3 linked regions of the Homo sapiens genome follow. The protein of the gene in region 3 interacts with the protein of the main gene of each other region in a pairwise test. Each region holds a gene or a part of one and is shown on either strand. Other genes may lie near its edges.

The links.
Region 1: the proteins of ZNF143 (region 3) and POGZ interact in binary tests that used the Homo sapiens proteins (3 or more experiments, as listed by UniProt).
Region 2: the proteins of ZNF143 (region 3) and ZNF512B interact in binary tests that used the Homo sapiens proteins (3 or more experiments, as listed by UniProt).

What each region holds. Positions count from the first base shown.
Region 1 is NC_000001.11:151,452,859-151,456,606, forward strand, and holds part of POGZ (pogo transposable element with ZNF domain), read right to left. Parts: intron 2,045-3,748; exon of another isoform or gene 1,169-2,044; intron 1-1,168. UniProt on the Homo sapiens protein: Plays a role in mitotic cell cycle progression and is involved in kinetochore assembly and mitotic sister chromatid cohesion.
Region 2 is NC_000020.11:63,956,183-63,959,930, forward strand, and holds the end of ZNF512B (zinc finger protein 512B), read right to left. Parts: coding exon 3,706-3,748; 3' UTR 522-3,705; downstream 1-521. Other genes in the region: UCKL1 (uridine-cytidine kinase-like 1), read right to left, coding at 78-190. UniProt on the Homo sapiens protein: Involved in transcriptional regulation by repressing gene expression. Associates with the nucleosome remodeling and histone deacetylase (NuRD) complex, which promotes transcriptional repression by histone deacetylation and nucleosome remodeling.
Region 3 is NC_000011.10:9,519,995-9,523,742, forward strand, and holds part of ZNF143 (zinc finger protein 143), read left to right. Parts: intron 1-3,748. UniProt on the Homo sapiens protein: Transcriptional activator. Activates the gene for selenocysteine tRNA (tRNAsec). Binds to the SPH motif of small nuclear RNA (snRNA) gene promoters. Participates in efficient U6 RNA polymerase III transcription via its interaction with CHD8.

The sequences.
Region 1 (3,748 bases), on a different chromosome or scaffold from region 3:
GTCTTAAAAAAAAAAAGTCACTCTGTCTAGGTGGTGGATAGTTTAAGTGTTCCTTGTAGAATTCTTTCACCCTTTTCTTTTTTCTTCTTTTTGTGATGGAGTCTCGCTCAGTTGCCCAGGCTGGAGTGATCTTGGCTCACTGCAACCTCCACCTCCCAGGTTCAAGTGATTTTCCTGCCTCAGCCTCCTGAGTAGCTGGGATTACATGCATGCGCCACAACGCCCAGCTAATTTTTGTATTTTTAGTAGAGACAGGTTTCACCATGTTGGTCAGGCTGGTCTTGAACTCCTGACCTTGTGATCCGCCCATCTTGGCCTCCCAAAGTGCTTCGGTTACAGGTGTGAGCCACTGCGCCCAGCCTCTTTCTCCCTTTTCGCATGCGTGAAATTTTCTTAATAAAAACTGAGGTGGGGTAGGAGGGAGTGGAACTACCTACTCATATCTTAGCTGTGATATTCTGTACTGCTACATTCCACCTATCTCTTTGGTATTTACTAAATAACTGGTAGCCTTGTTGGTTGAATTTCTTGATTTATTCCCAGGACCAATTTTCATGTAGCTTGTATATATACATTTCTCTTTTTTTATTTTTATGCATCCATTTTCACTTAATATACATTTCTTAAGACATAGCAAAATAGTTAAATAAGAAATAACAAATTAAGGTGGATTATGTAGGCTACCAAGGAGGTACATTACTTTCTTCCATTAATCCATTATTTGACATCTTGGTAACCTAGGTGGTTTCTCTATTTTGTAGTAATTGTAACATGATTTTTTTGTGCACTCAATAGGTTTTACTTAACACTGCAGGCTCACACAGAACTATTAGCAATACTCAGTCTCTTGTCTCATCCTTCAATCCATAATATGGGAGTACCAGATAAATACTCTCCTGGAGGGAAGGGGACTATTTCTTAAATGCTGGCGAATATGGTAGTCTATACTAAGGCCCTATATGATCAGCTAGTCAATAAAAGTCTATATAATTGTAAAGGCAAGATAAAAACAGACCTTTTAAAACAATATACTATTTAAAAGCAGCAAAAAGAATCCTGCAGATACACCTGTATACTTTTAAGGTATTTAATGGGCAGCAAATGTTGCCTATCTTCATCTCAAAGAAAATGAGAAAAAGATCTGTTTTCCACAACTATCCTGACATACTTGGTTCTTGAAAGCTCTGAATTCCTTTGTCTTGTTCTTTCATAGCTGTAAAGTCCAGAAATGAAGAATGAAGAATTCAGAAATGAAGAATTTGGTATCTAACGTTTTCAACTTACTGCCAGTACATACCTGCCCAAAAATCAACATAAAAAGAACATTTGGAACAGGAAAAATATTTTACAGAAAACAAACATTTTAAGAATACCACTTTCTTGTTCCAGGGTGAAAAATAAACAATGATAATCCTCAACATAACTGGTAATTATGTTTTCAAGTTACCTCAATTTTTGGCTCTAAAAAGGACTAATACCAGAAAACCTATAGGGCTGAATACTTAATCTGTGTATAAAACTATAGTTAAACATGTAATAAGCTTTTATTTATCCAGTCTTTTGCACAGCCCATTTTGTCCCTCACAACATCTGTTATAGTACCTCATATGTAAGAATCATAAGGGTTTTAAGTAGTCTTAATAACCTAAAATTTCCAAACTCAAAATACTTTCCTCTTGTCTGGTAGCCAATCCTGTATCAAGAAACACCCAAATATTTAGTTCTGTGCTCTTTACTAAAACAAGTAAGCAACAAGTTCTCTTCTTTAAAGGGGTTCAATATTCAGGAGTCCCTTTCCCAAGAAAAATATCTATACTATGATGGAAAACTTTTCTTCAATGACAGCTGTGTGTTGCCTAAATTCCATTTCTATGCTTTCAATTTCTTTTAACTCTGCTAACACCTAGCAATAGGTTAGTGTCTCTTTTCTGCTCTCCTCCCCTTGGTTACATATAAAAATACGTTTTTCAGTTGGGCGTGGTGGCTCACGCCTGTAATCCCAGCACTTTGGGAGGCCAAGGCGGGTCGATCAAGAGGTCAGGAGTTTGAGACCAGCCTGATCAATATGGTGAAACCCCATCTCTAGAAAAATACAAAAATTACCCAGGTGTGGTGGCGCGTGCCTGTAATCCCAGCTACTGAGGAAGCTGAAGGAGGAGAATCGCTTGAACCCAGGAGGCGGAGGGTGCAGTGAGCCGAGATTGCGCCATTACGCTCCAGCCTGGGCAATAGAGCGAGACTCCATCTCAAAAAAAAAAAAAAGACAAGTTTTTGTGAATATGGCTTAATATCACAAACAAGAATACCAAAGAATCTATCAAAATGTTACCATATTGATATTATGGCAAAGGCATTAACCAGCTCTAGGATTTGTAATCAACCAGCTCTAAAGTTTTTATTTTACAGATAAGGTCAAAACAGTGGTTTAGAGAGACGAAGTAACTTCCTCAAGGTTACAGTTAGTAAATATCCCAGTTAGGATTCAAAGCAAGCTTTTTTTGCTTTAGAATTCTTCCCCAGGTCACTGCCTCTTCCATCAACTTCAACTATTTATAAATTCTCCCAAGTTCCCCAAGGGAGTTAGATTTGAATGATGTAAAGAGCAGAAACATAGGACTGACTGAATGATTCTCATTTTTTTGACTCTTAAAATTATTGAAGACGCCAAAGATCTTTTGTTTATGTGAATTTTATCTTTCCACATTTACCACAAATTTTTAAAATGTAGTATTTATCAATGTATTTTAAGACAAGCCCATTATAAGTTAACATAAATAACATTTCAACAAAAAATACTTTCCCTCCAAAAAGTGAGAAAAGTAACGTTGTTTTGCATTTTGCAAATCTCTTTTATGTCTAACTTGATAAAAGATGGTTGGATTCTCACAGTTACTTCTGCATTCAGTCTGTTGCTATATGTAGCTTTGGTTAAGTATATAATGAAAATCTAGTCGGAAAAGGGAGAAGTATTTTAATAACCTTTTCAGATAACTGTGTTTGGTAAATACTAAAACTCAACAAACGGTAGTTTCTTTCTTTTTTTTTTTTTTTTTTTTTTTTAATAAATAGAGACAGGGTCTCACTATGCTGACCAGGCTCAACTCCAACTCCTGGGCTCACACAATCCTTCCACCTTGGCCTCCCAAAGTGCTGGGATTACAGGAGTGAGCCACCACGCTAGGCCAAATAGTAGTTTCTTAAAGGACAGTTAACATTTTGGAATCTGAAACCACATCAATCCACTTTTTTACTGTTAAAATCCATTGCTATGTCTGGAATTTTCAAAGGATCTTTTGCCTTTGCTTGATTTTGCAACATCATGCATTGGTCATTTGCAAAGCCTAGATTTACTGAGTTATGCCCATCTTCCAAATAACATATTTCATTAAACAACATTTTAAAATATTGCAGTCCTTAACCACTGATATCATAAGGAAAGTCTTTTAAGTACTAGGAAGCTGTCAAACTCCAGCTGTCAACTTTTTAAAAATTCTAATTTTCACCCAAATTTTATCACTGGTAATAAATACTGTCAGTTGTTTTCCTAAAAGTGACAAGCTCACTTCATTTTCAAGAAATATCTGCCAAATACTAAGTGTGAAAAACCATAGTCTGCTAGTCGTTCTTTCAAGTAAAAATGCTACTCCATGAAATAAGCCATTCATTCACAACCCAATCTCACAAATGCTTTTCCTTCATGACAACAATCACACCTCCCTAGGCAGCATAAATGCTTTATCCATGTTTA
Region 2 (3,748 bases), on a different chromosome or scaffold from region 3:
GGACCACCCGCCCAGCTCGGCCGGATCTGCAGCCCCTTCCCGCTCGCCAGTGGAGTGGAGGCGAGGCCCACGCCTACCGGTCCTCGCACGCGGTCTCGCTTTTCTCAGCCTGCCGGCCTGGTGTGTCTCGGGCCGTAGGTGGCGACGTGGGCGAAGGATCAGCGTCCGCGCGGGCCGGGGGCGCAGCCATGGCGCTCGGAGGCCTCTTTGCGGGCCTGGCCGGGCGGCGCGCATGGGCCGCCGGGAGCTGGCGGGTCCCTCTCTTGCCCACCGCGGACTACAAGCCCCACAAGGCCGCGCGTCGCGGACTACAAGCCCCACAAGGCCGCGCGTCGCGGACTACAAGCCCCACAAGGCCGCGCGTCGCGGACTACAAGCCCCACAAGGCCGCGCGTCGCGGACTACAAGCCCCACAAGGCCGCGCGGCGGGCATGGGGGACCCGTAGTTCGGCAGCCTCCGCCACGTGCCTGGAGGGCCCCGCCCCCTGTTTTTCACCACAAACTGAGCCGCACAAAAACCCTGGAAAAAAATCAATAAACATTTATTTGATACAGTCATTTTAATACATACAGTGATGGCCCGTCCCCACGCCACTCGGGACCAGGGCGCGGGGCGGGGACGAGGACCGGGGACAGATGGTCACAAGGCGGGCGGGGCCCGAACTCACCGTTGAAACATCTCGCAAATAAACACTTTGTAGATAGAATATATATGTATATATATATGGTTACAAGTGATAGCTGGAACCTCTTTCAAAATGCACTTATGTACTGAGAACTGGCATTAAAAAACCCAAACCAAGAAACCCAAAGCACGGGACGCCCGGCCGCGAGGCAGGGGAAAGCCTGGGGCCCCAGACCCGGGCCTGGGGGAGCCGCCTGGGGCCCCGCCAAACGCGGCACACGGGGACGGCCCCTCCCGGGGTCAGGCTCACTGGCTCCTTCCCTTCAGCGCCACCAGGCAGGAGGGCCAACGGTCACACAGGAGGCACCCTCACCTGCCTTTGCACCAGCAAATAAAGTGCATCCCATTTTCGTGTGAGCGTCGGCCCGGTGAGTCAGCCCTTCCGGGCCCTTTCCTGTTCTCAGGGCAGGGGGCGTGCGCTGAGCCAGAGGTAGATCTGCAGAAAGGGCCCCGACTGGGCCTCGGGCAGGGCCGGCGCCCACCACACTCTGGGGGTCAGCTATGCTGGTCCCTCTCACTGAGGGCTCCTGGAGGCCTATGTGGGCCAGCGTAGGGAGTGGGCAGACCCTGCTGAGCTCCACCCAGGGCCCCACCCCTTGGGAGGAGGGCTCTGCGGACCAGCATGTGGCAGAGGGAGGGCAGAAAGGAGGGGGTCAGACCCAACAGCCACTTCTGGCAGTAGCCCCCACGCCTACCTTAAAGACAAAGGGGGTTAAAGTGCTAAACATCAAGGTATCCAGGACTCCTCTTCCCACACCAGGGATTATCTGTGGGCTTTGGGAGTGTCCCGGAAACTCACCCCCAGCAAAAACCAGACCCTCTTCTCTTCTCCCCAAGGGCCAAGTACCTGAGAGGCTGGGGCAGGCACCACACCCTGCAGGTGTTCAGGTCCACCCTCCTCCCGCCATTGGTGGCAAGGACAAAGTGCACCTAGGCCCCCGCCCAGTGCCTGCTCCCCTCCCCTCCCCTCCCCTCCCCTCATGAGGCTGCCCCAGCAGCAGCTGCCAGACCCCACCCTCCACCTCCGGCTCCTCCAGCTCCACCAGTGAAGCTCTGGGACACAGGAAGGAATGCCTCCCCCGACCCTCTGACGCTGGGTCACGCCCATCTCTGCCCCAGCCTCCATCCTCTCATCAGGCCGAGGTGTGCGTGGGTGGGGGGAGTCCGGGTCTCCACACCCACTCCCTGGCACATCTGGCAAGGGCTGCTGAGGGTTGGAGCCTTCTGGCCCAAGGATGAAGCCAGAGACAGGAAGTGTTCTGCAACCCCAGTCCCCAAAGTGCTCCTGGAACTTGTCTCCCTACTACTGCAGGCCAAGCCCAGTGGGGCCCCTTCTCCCTGGGGAATGGGGGAGGGTGGGTGCTGGGGGCAGAGGCAGTGCCCAGTCAGTACTGCCTCCCTGAGCAGCAAGGGACCCCAACCCCAGAGACCCACGCCCTGGTCCAGCCCAGCCCCCAGGCCCACCGTCTGCACCAGGAAACCCTTAGCACCAAATGTCGGATTGCGAGTGTTTGTATAAAAAACAATTTAAAAAAAAGGTTGTTACTTGTCACAGCAACAAGACTGGCATCCACTACACCCAGGAGACACACGCACACGGGCAAACATCAAAATTCTCATCGTCCAGGGTCAGTGGGGCCGAGCCCTCAGCCCACTCCCACCCACCCTGGAAAATGGCCTCCCTCCAAACCTACCCCCTCTGAGCCTCATCCTCCCTGCAATGCCGTGGTTGGAAGGCAGGACCCCAGGGAGGGAGCCACAGGCTGTGGCCACCTCTTCCAGGCACCCTGGACTCCCTGCCTGACCCCTGCCCTACCTATAGACCCAGCCGTCCTCAGGGCCACAAAGGGGCAAAGACAGCTCTGGAGCTGCCATCAACCTGCTGTGACTTTGGCCAAGCCCCTCCCCTGGCTGGCCTTCAGTTCCCATATCAAATGACCACACAACCAGAAACAATGGGGGCAGGTTAAAAAAAAAAGTGGGGAGGGGGCTCCCATGAGAGCTTGGCCACTGGGCCTACCCAGATTGGCAGACAGAAGGCTGCCTTTCCCCCAGTGGCCACTCAGAGCCAGGCCAGCTCTGCCCAGCTTCCTGCCCCACATGCCTATGGGCCCCAGCAAGACCCCAGGGCCCGAACTAGTCCGTCCCTACTCCACGAGGCTGCTCCAACCTAGGCCTGCAGTGCCAGAAGGCTGAACACTGGAGGAGAGCACACTCCAGGGGCCCCACACCCCCAGGGCTGGCAGCTGTGTTGAAGGGCATCAAGCTTCTGCTGCCCTGTAGGTACAAGAAGCAAAACCCCTCCCTTGCCCCAAGCTGGGAGAATTACAGACAGGCCTGGGGGGCAGGGCCTGAGCACAGCAGGGATCGCACTGACAAAGGAGGAGCAGGGGTGGGGGTAGTGGGCAGGCCTGGAGAGGTAGAAAACAGAAGCAAGGGGACCAAGTGGGTGGCCAAGGGCAGGCCGGAGCCTGTCAGGTCAGCATGGCAGTGGTCAGACAGGGGTCTGTCCTGGGAGGTAGCTGGGGGTGCTGGAGTTCCAGTGTTGGGTGGAGGTGAGGCCAGGATGGTGGCTGCCCGTGCCAGGTTGCTCAGGTGCCCTCACCAGCCCAGAACCACAGGTCACCAGGGATGCCTGAGCCTTGGGGTAGCCAGGGAAGGGACCCGGCAGGGCCTGAGGAAGCGGAGCCGGGGGGCCAAAGGCCATCTGCCTACTCTGCGCTGCAGCCCCTGTGGCACCAAGACCCCAGACACATTCCCATGAGGAGGGGCAACCCTCCTGGCTATTGCACTTCTGCTGGGCACACCTTGGGGAGCCCCAACCCAGGTGTGCCCTGTGGCAGCCTTAACAGGGGAAGGGCCACCTTCAGGGAAGGGAGAGTGGCTGGCTGCCCCACTGGACGGATGAAGAGGCGGGGGTGGGGGATGGAGAACTGGAGGACAGAGGTCCCGGAGCTGGCCCTGCCTTGAACAGAGGGCGGTGTGGCGGCTGCATGGGGGCCAGGCCCCACGCACCATGCTCACTTTTCAGGCGCCTTGCTGACTCCCACCTTCCGGCCGGTG
Region 3 (3,748 bases):
GGGCAATGTAGCAAGACACTGTTTCCACCAATTTTTTTTTTTTTTTTTTTTTTTTTTTTTGAGACGGAATCTCCCTCTGTCGCCCAGACTGCAGTGCAGTGGCCCAATCTCGGCTCACTGCAACTTCCGCCTTCCGGGTTCAAGTGATTCTCCTGCCTCGGCCTCCTTAGTAGCAGGATTACAGGCACCCACCAGCATGCCCAGCTAATTTTTGTATTTTTAGTAGAGAGGGGGTTTCACCATGTTGGTCAGGCTGGTCTCCAACTCCTGACCTCAGGTGATCCACCCGCCTCGGCTTCCCAAAGTGCTGAGCCACTGTGCCTGTCCAATTTTTTTTTTTTTTTTTTTTTTTAATTAGCAAAGCATGGCAGCATATGCCTGTAGTCCCAGCTACTCTTGAAGCTGAAGTGGGAGGATCACTTAGCCCAGGAGGTTGAGGCTTTGGTGAGCCATGTTCATTGTACTACAGCCTGGATGACAGAGCAAAACCCTGTCTTCTAAAAAAAATAAAAAAGAGGCCAGGCACAGTGGCTCATGCCTGTAATCCCAGGAATTTGGGAGGCTGAGGCAGGTGGATCACAAGGTCAGGAGTTCGAGACCAGCCTGGCCAGCATGGTGAAACCCTGGCTCTACTAAAAATACAAAAAATTAGCATGGTGTGGTGTGCACCTTTAGTCCCAGCTACTCAGGAGGCTGAGGCAGGAGAATTGCTTGAACCCGGTAGGTGGAGGTTGCAGTGAGCTGAGATTGCACCATTGCACTCCAGCCTGAGTGACAGCGAGACTCCGTCTCAAAAAAATAAAAAATAAAAAAGAATTCTGTTTGTTTCATATTATCACCAACATTTGGAGTTGTTTTAAAGTTTTAGCCATTCTACTGGATGTTAAGTGGTCTATCATTGTGGTTTTAATTTACATATAAAAAAGCTAATATATCACTTGGTTATGATGTATTTTTGTATTTTGCTGGATTCAATTAGCTAATATTTTTTAAAGATGATTTTTTAGAGCTGTTATAGGTCACCACAAAATTGAGAGGTAGGTACAGAGACTTCCCTTACACTCCCTGCCCCCACACATACATAGCCTCCTGCATAATGAACACCCCCACCAGAGGAACACGTTTGTTACTGTTGAAACCTACACGTACACATCACAATCACCCAGAGTCCATCATTTACATCAGGATTCACTGTTAGTGTTGTACATTCTATGGGTTTGGACAAACGTATGATGACATACATCTATCAATAGAGGATCATACTCTATTAGAGTATTTTTACTGCCCTTAAAATCCTCTGTGACAATTTGCTAATATCTTGTTAAGGATTTTGGTGTCAATGTTTATGAACCATATTGATCTATAATTTATTATGAAATTATAAGAAAAAGTTTCATCTCCTGTTTCAATATCAGGGTTAGGCTTGCCTCATAAAACAAGTTGGGAAGTGTTCTCTTCTGTACTATTTTCTGATAGTTGTGTAAGATTGGTATTATTTCTCCATAAAAGCTTGATAGAGTTAATTAGGACACCACCATCTATGCCCAGAGTTTTCTTTTTGCGGAGGTTTTTTTTTGTTTTTTTTTTGTTGTTGTTGTTGTTGTTTTTTACTATGGATTCAAGTTTTTAAGTGGATCTATACTATTCAAGTTATCTATGTTTTTTTGTATCCATTTTGCTAAGTTTTGTTTTTGTAAGTTTGTCTGTTTCATCTAAGTTTTCATATTTATTGATATAAAGATGTTCATACTATTTCCTTATTATCTCTTTAATATACATAGGATCTGGGGGCCGGGTGCGGTGGCTCATGCCTGTAATCCCAGCACTTTGGGAGGCTGAGGCAGGTGGATCACCTGAGGTCAGGAGTTCAAGACCAACCCAGGGCAACATGGTGAAACCCCATCTCTACTAAAAATACAAAATTAGCCAGGTGTGGTGGCGCATGCCAGTAGTCCCAGCTACTCAGGAGGCTGAGGTGGGAGGATCATTTGAGCCCAGGAGGCAGAGGTTGCAGTGAACTGAGGTAGCACAGCTACACTACAGCCTGGGCGACAGAGGGAGACCCTGTCTCAAAAAAAAAAAAAAAAAAAGTCAGTGGAAGGTAAAGCAATTCTTAGAGGAAAATTTCTTTTAAATGCTTGTATTGGAAAAAAAAGGTTTAAATTGAATGATCTTAGTTTCTACCTTAAGAAAAATTAAACAAAAAAAGTAAATGGAAGGAAATAAGGACTGGGCGCAGTGGCTCACACCTGTAATCTCAGCACTTTGGGAGGCTGAGGCAAGTGTTCCCGAGTAGCTGGGACCCAGGCTGGCCTCAAACTCCTGGGCTTCAGGGATCCCTCAGCCTCAGCCTCCCAAGAAGCTAGGACTGCAGGTACAAGCCACTGCTTCTGGGGAAAAAAAAAAAAATTTAAATTGTCTACTGCCCTTCTGGAACTCTAGTTACATGTATATTAACTAGGTGTTGTCTTACAAGTTGCTGGGAATCTATTTGGCTTTTTTGTTTTTTGTTTTTTTGAGACAGTTTTCGCTTTTGTTGCCCAGGCCGGAGTGCAATGGCACGCTCTCGGCTCACTGCAACCTCCGCCTCCCGGGTTCAAGCGATTCTCCTGCCTCAGCCTCCCAAGTAGCTGGGATTACAAGCACCGGCCACCACACCTGGCTAATTTTTGTAATTTTAGTAGAGACGGGGTCTCACCATGTTGGTCAGGCTGGTCTCGAACTGCTGACCTCAGGTGATCCACCCGCCTTGGCCTCCCAGAGTGTTGGGATTACAGGTGTGAGCCACCACACCTGGCCTATTTGGGGTTTTTAACAATCTTTCTCAAGGTTCTTCAGATGGAGAATGTATATTAATTTGTCTTTGACCTGGTTCTCCTCCCTCAGCCTCCCGAGTAGCTGGGACTACAGGCACCCGCCACCATGCCCAGCTAATTTTTTGTATTTTTTTTTTTAGTAGAGGTGGGGTTTCACCATGTTGGCCAGGCTGATCTCGAACTCCTGACCTCAGGTGATCCACCCACCTCGGCCTCCCAAAGTGCTAGGATTACAAGCGTGAGCCATCATGCCTGGCTAAGCAATTGTAATTTTTAAATTGCATTCTGGACCTTGTGGATGACACATTATAGAGATTCTGAATTTTGTTATCTTTCTCTGGAGAATATTGATTTTTTTTTTCTATTAGCTAGTTAAATTACGTGTTGTGGCTGGGTTTTGTACTTTGTTAAGGCAGGTCTGTTTCAGTGTTGCTATAAGGTCTTAGGGTGAATATTTAGTCCTGGGACGTAATCTTACCTCCTAACTTGGTAAGATTGAAACTTCAAATTCCGTCTCTCTTTGGTGAGTTGCACTGAAAGCTCTCCTTAGTTTCTCAGCCTTCTAGATGCTGCTTTGCCAGTCTTGTTGGAATGTTGTTGGAAACCGGAAATATTTGTGTTGAGGGGTCTTAAGGATTTGAGGCCGGGCGCGGTGGCTCACGCCTGTAATCCCAGCACTTTGGGAGGCTGAGGCGGGCGGATCACGAGGTCAGGAGATCGAGACCATCCTGGCTAACACGGTGAAACCCCGTGTCTACTAAAAAATACAAAAAATTAGCTGGGCGTGATGGCGGGCGCCTGTAGTCCCAGCTACTCGGGAGGCTGAGGCAGGAGAATGGCGTGAACCCGGGAGGCGGAGCTTGCAGTGAGCCAAGACGGCGCCACTGCACTCCAGCCTGGGCGACAAAGTGAGACTCCGTCTCAAAAAATAT